Regions from separate parts of the Homo sapiens genome. Here region 1 is linked to region 2. Evidence: fine-mapped expression QTL. A gene starts in region 2. The other region holds a variant in brackets. All regions are shown on one strand. Distances are between the middles of the regions.

Region 1 (2,904 bases), 36 kb before region 2:
GTGAGTGCAGTGCTTGCCGGGCATGGTGCTTGGCACATGGTGGGCCTTTAACAGATACTTATTAAAGGAATAAGGCAAGAGAACATCCCTCTGAATAACTGGAACCTTTTCCTTCTCCCTAATACTAAGGATTATGCAACTGTGTGGCCCATTCTTCCTTTGACACTAGGAACATTTTAGCTAACTGAATTTGAATTTCAGCTATAACAATTAGTTGGCCTTCCTAGACTACACATCTATGCTCCTCTGTATCTAATCGTGACTCTCTACTCCTAGTTTTCTCAGGCCTAATTCTCTACTTCTTTGTTTTTGTTTTCCCAGCATCATTTTGTTGTAAGTATCCCTGCTATAAGCCATCTTTGTGGAAAGAGATGGCGCAAAAACAGACGAGTAGACAAACCAAATGCTTTATAAAAAAGCCATCGAAGACACGTCAAGGAAGCCACTTTCCACCATTTATTAAATAAATTCTTTCCCAGGCCGGTCTGAGTCGCACCCAGACTTTACATCAGGCTTTGTTCCAGGTGGGTGGGGGTGCCAAAGGGAATACTGCGGCCTGAAAGACATCCAAGGAAAAAGGCTTCTTTTAGAGGCAAGTCCACATTACACAGTTGGCAATGCTAAGCTGAACGTCCTCCCAGCTTCCAGGGGGAAATGAAAGACATTCCCCCCATAGCTTTGCTTTCAAGCTCTTACAGCTGGCAGGGCAGGAGAGCCAAGTTCCGCCTTTTCAATGCAGGTTGTCACTTGGGTGCCAGGATCTGCTGATCAATTAGCCAAACATCCAACGTGAGAAAAAGGCCCAGCACACATCTTTTTGCTTAACTGTCATTAAATGCTCCATTTAACCCCAAAGAACCTGACTTTCTCTTTTTTTCATCTGCTATAGCCCAAGAACACCATTACTAAAGAATTTTTCTTGAAAAATTACAAAGGGAAGCAAAAGAAAGAAACATGATTTCTGAGCAGACCTCTCCTTCGCAGTTCTGCACCTGAGGCTCTTTGTTCTTCATGGGATCTGAGGTCTGGGAGGGAACTTGGGGATTCTCGAGAGTCACCTCATTGTACAGATTGAGAAGCAGATGCCCTGAGAGGTACAGTGACTCACCCAAAGTCACACAGCTGGTTAAGGGCAAGGGGAGGGCTAGACCCACATCTCCTGACTTTTAATTCACTCACTAAACCACATGCTTCTCCAGTACCGTACACTTAGCCACAAACTCTTTGAAGAGATTGAATAATTCAAACAGATGACGCCCTTGTAGAAGGACAAAGTGCGGGGCAGCCTCACTTCTATGTAAACCAACAACCCAAATAGCATAATGAAAGAGCCCAGTTTATTTTTCTTGTCACTCAAATTAAAATCATTTACAGGCAGACATTCCCTAACTCACAAATAAGCTGTGTCCTAACAGTGTGTTTGGAATTTGCTATTTAGAACCCAGGATGTGTTTTCTTCCTGGGAAATCACATGATCGAGTGTGGTCAGAACCCCAGGCCAGGTCACAAAGGGCGACTTAACCAATAAGTAACCACCGTGGAGTCGAAGGAACCCTTCATCATATTGTCTCCATGAAAAAACACATTCCAGGTTTCAAGTAGGAATAGTGGAAACGCAGCTATCCCACCAAGGTCCCAGTGCAAAGATGTCCCTCCCAGG[C/T]GCCTGGTGGGGAGCTGGGAGGTTAGGCTAGGTAAGAGCTAGGAAGCCGTGCAGAATTGTGAACTGGACATGCGCTTTGGGTGGAGACAGAACAGGTTTCCACTCCACTACTTAATAGCTGGGCAAGTTCCTTAACCTCTCTGATCCTCTGAAAAATGAGGATGGCAACAATACCTCACTGGTAAATTATAAGGACAAAAGAAGACAATGTCTGTTAAGAACCTATTTCCGTGTCTCGCATGTGTCAACAGGCTATCATTTATTATTGTGGTTGCTTGGGAGGAGAAGGACGGGCTCTGGTGGTTTGGAGAGCTGGGATGCTCCATTTGAGGAGGCAGCATCTGGGGTGAGGAAAGGCTCTTGCCATAGCCTGATGGGCAGGGGGCAGTGAGGGGACCCTGGGTTCTTACCCCCCATCCCTGCGCCTTAGGCAGTAGAAGTGGCAGCAGCTGTGGTTCCACCCCTGTCTGGGAGGAGGCGGCAAGGCCCTGGTGGGGCCCACAGTGGCCACTCCAAGCAGCCTGGTTGTTGAGAGGGTCGCCCTTGGCAGTGCTGGCTCATAAGCAGCTTCAGCCTTCCCCTGCCCTCTGTCATCATTCCTCCCCATCCCCGGGGGACGTCCCTGGCAGCTCCCACAGTGCTTCTCGGCCCTTTCAAGTCTCATTTCAGTGACTTAAAATGTCCAAGACAGTGTAACATCAAACTTTAAATTTTGTTAAGTTCAGTCTCCTCCCACAATCTGAGGCTTGCTCCAGGCTTAGAAGCGGCCTGAGGAGGAGTCGGGGGTCTGTGTTGCTAGTCTCTTCTCTCTCCTGGCTCTACTTCCAGCCCCCATTCTCACTAGCTGGGTTTCAGACCATCTGAGGCTAGGCCCAGAGGGAGAAGGGAGGGAGTTGAGCACAGCAGTGTGATCTGGCATGGGTCCTCTGGGTGTCTGATGCATGGGTGTTAGCTCTGTCCCCAGGCCCATGGCTCCAGAGCCCCTCAAAGCCCCTCACACCTGTCTTGAGGTAGGAAGGAAGTGCCAGAATCTTCCCCCAGAAATATGGTGCTCACCTGACCCAGTTTGCCTGGGACTAAGGGGTTTCCCGGGATGCAAGACTTCCATTGCTAAAGCCGGGAGAGTCCCAGGCAAACCAGCAGGAAACAGTCACCTGACCCAAGGGCGGCGGGCACATCATGACACTCAGCTCTCTCCCAAATAACCCTTTTCTCATGACTCTTCGGCCCAAGTGACCAGTGGG
Region 2 (2,904 bases):
TAATCCCAGCTACTCCGAAGGTTAAGGTAAGATGATCTCTTGAGCCCAGGAGTTGGAGACCAGCCTGACAACATAGCGAGACCTTGCCTCTAAACAAAAATTACATATTGTATGATTCTATTTATATGAAACATTCAATTTCTGGTGGAAGTCTCATATGATCTTTGGTTGGAGGATGACTGGATGTTGACAGATGACAATGAGGTGAAGAGCATTTTAGCAGAGGGAATGGCATGATCAAAGACAAAATGGAGAGTCAGAGGCAGGAATGCATATTTAGGGAGGAATGAATGAGCACTGGCTACAACAGAGATCTGGGAAGAAAAGCAAGTGAAGGAAGTAAAGCTGGAAACATGGATTGACAAGTTGCCTTTTTCAAATGGAAAAACTAACAGGTGTGAGGGAGAAGAGAGTCAATAGAAATTTCTGTCTTTTCCAGATTTGTTCACATTCCCCTGATTTGTAGTCATTTTGTCGGCTTGGGAAAGTGGTTTTTGAAAGATCGTCTTTATAAAGGTAGGCTCTGATAGGATGCTCAAGCTAAGAGCAAGGAAGGACAAAGAAGGCGCCTGGCGACAGAAAAGGGCACTAACAAAAATTGGGCAAAAAGGAAGTGTGGCGGTCCCCAAATCCCTTCTTCCTCCATTTCAGCTGAGATCATTCGCCAGTAGGCAACTGTGGTATTACCAATAAGTTTGTATCACCAATAAAATATTATAATGCACCTGGCTAAAAACCCTGGCGTGATAACACCAAATTCATGTTATTAGAAGGAATTAAATTTTAAAAAGCACACCGTTCCAGGCACACAGAAGGAGCCCCCGAACGTTTGTTTTATAAACGCAGGTTGGTTGCTGAGGCTTTGTTTTGGAGCCTACGTTTAGGAGAGGAAATGATTCAAAACTGCCCCCCAAAACCTATATCCTCCAGGAGCACTGAGGTTGGGGCGACCTGCTGCCAACTGGTCTGGTTTTCCCTTTTAACACACGCTTCTTGCCCACTATCCGGTCCCTGCGGTCAGTGGGTGCAGCAGGGGTCGCAGTCCAAACAACCAATCGCGACGCGGCTGCGGGGCGGGGGCCACAGCGCTCCGCCTCCCCCCTCCAATCCGCCCTCCCAATCCTCCTAGGCCGCTCTCTCTCGCACCTGCGTGTCCCTCTGCGCTCCGACTGGTGCGACTTCTCCCTGCGCTAGCGAGGCAGGGTTTTGGCCTCGCCTCTCGCGAGATCGCCTCCTGTTGCTGCCGCCGCCGCTCCTGGCCACTGACTGGCGGCGCCTGCGCAGCCGCCATGTTCGGTTGCTATGCTGCGGCCTAGGAGAGGGGGTGTGCTTGAGGGAGGAGGAAGAGATAGAGGAGGAGGAGGGGGAGGAAGAGGAGGTGGAGAAGGAGGGGGGTGACTGAGCTCCTCTTGCACTCTCACACACAAACGCTGCCCAGGATTACCCGCCAGCTCACGCCGCGCAGTGCGCTTTTCCGCTCCTCGCGCCCCACCACCAACATTGTTCTCTCAGGACTCCTGGGTCCCAGGGGCCGGAATTGGGCCTGAGCGGGAGAGGAAAGAGACTTGGCTTTGGCCGCGGGGTCGGAGGATTGGGGCCAGGCCCCCTCCCCCACGCACTTTTGGGGGTGTGGATTATCTCATCCCTGCAGGGAGGTAGGAGAGGTCGCCGGCTGCCCGCCTCCCTGCCACCTCCCCAGCGGCGCCGGCCCGCGGCTGCCCAGCAGCATGAGGTGGTGCTGGCGGCTCCGGGTCGTGGCGCGACCGCTGCGGCGGCGGCTGCTCGGGGGGCGCTGAGGTAGCCCCCCGGAGCGGCACGGAGGACGCGCTTCTCCTCTGCGCGCCGGGGCCTCGAGGCTTTTTTTCTCCAGCCGAGAGGACGCGGCTGTGATATACGAAGGTAAGAGGTTCTCCGGTCCCCGCCGGCCTCTCGGCCCTGCACGTTGAACGGGAGGCTCTTACCTGCATGTGTGGCTCCTGGGAGGTGAGCCAGGTGGGGCAAGCCGGAGGTACGAGGATGATTTGAAAGGAAGGAAAAAAGGACAAAAACAAACAAACAAACAAACAAAAAAACGCTTTCTTTCCTTTCTTCCTGGGACCTCTGCTTTTGCGGGGGTTATAGTTGGAATCTCTGTTATGGGTCAGCGAAGGGCCAAGGGATGGAATAGGTGCGGAGATGGAATGTTCCCAGTACCTAAACTCTAGGTAAAGCTTTGGAATCTTGAGTTTTCCATTGCTGGTAGAATTCCTTTTTTTTTTTTTTTTTTTTTTGGCTCATATGAGCGCTTCTTGCACGCTGCATGAGCCAACTATTCCTACCATTGAAGTTTTAAGCCTGTTATGATTCTACCAGTATATACCTGTATTTGGGAATCTGTAGTTGAGCCAAAAAAAAAAAAAAAAAAAAAGTTGAGATGTGGGTAAACAGTGATGCATTTCGCAGGGTTTCCATAAAATGGAACAGCTTACAGTTGCACAGGTGATGTGTGGATGTTTCTGCAAAACTTAGGGTGGAAGATTTTATGTCTGGGCTTGCATCATGTAGTGACATCAGTATGTACAAGGACGATTTGTAGGATTTTTCAAAACGCCTGTTCTAGGATAACTTGTTATGCATCTGCAATATGCCAGCTGCTTTTCGAATAAGAGGTTTCAGTAATACTAAGTTTCTGTGTCCAGATCTTGGGCCCAGTTGAAACAGTACAGCTGATTGGTCACATTTAAAACATATTTATGGAGAAAGATAAAAGGCCAATGTGTCCGACTTGCAAAAGACAATTAGAGTAGAAAGAAGACTGGAACAGTAAAAGCCAGGGCATTTTTAAATCTTGGTTTTCTGAACTTTAACGTGCCAGAGGAAAAAAATTTTTTTTCAATTTTAAGGGGGAAGGAGATGGCCTTAAAA

Which allele goes with the higher level. Alleles are on the strand shown, and positions count from the first base shown. SD is a standard deviation of normalised expression in the study named.
In carriers of allele T in region 1, the expression in tibial artery of the gene that starts at base 1,437 in region 2 tends to be higher than with C alone (large effect, 1.0 SD a copy in GTEx).

What was found.
Region 1: its variant is fine-mapped to the expression of PTPN4 in tibial artery (GTEx, PIP above 0.99). The same link has a PIP of 0.9 or more in gastroesophageal junction.

The regions. Positions count from the first base shown.
Region 1 is chr2:119,722,764-119,725,667 of GRCh38, forward strand. It overlaps LOC101927764 (a long non-coding RNA gene), which reads right to left. Exons shown (of 4, transcript XR_007087215.1): 3 at 1-2,904. It also overlaps a transcript of TMEM177 not described here. Among named protein-coding and RNA genes, the nearest start is that of PTPN4, 36 kb to the right of the region's middle. The variant C/T (reference allele first, on the strand shown) is at 1,661.
Region 2 is chr2:119,758,486-119,761,389 of GRCh38, forward strand. It overlaps PTPN4 (protein tyrosine phosphatase non-receptor type 4), which reads left to right and starts at 1,437. Exons shown (of 27, transcript NM_002830.4): 1 at 1,437-1,899. It overlaps LOC101927764 (a long non-coding RNA gene), which reads right to left and starts at 1,229. Exons shown (of 4, transcript XR_007087215.1): 1 at 1,147-1,229. RefSeq lists silencers at 979-1,088, 1,639-1,938 and enhancers at 1,128-1,422, 1,139-1,398, 1,669-2,293.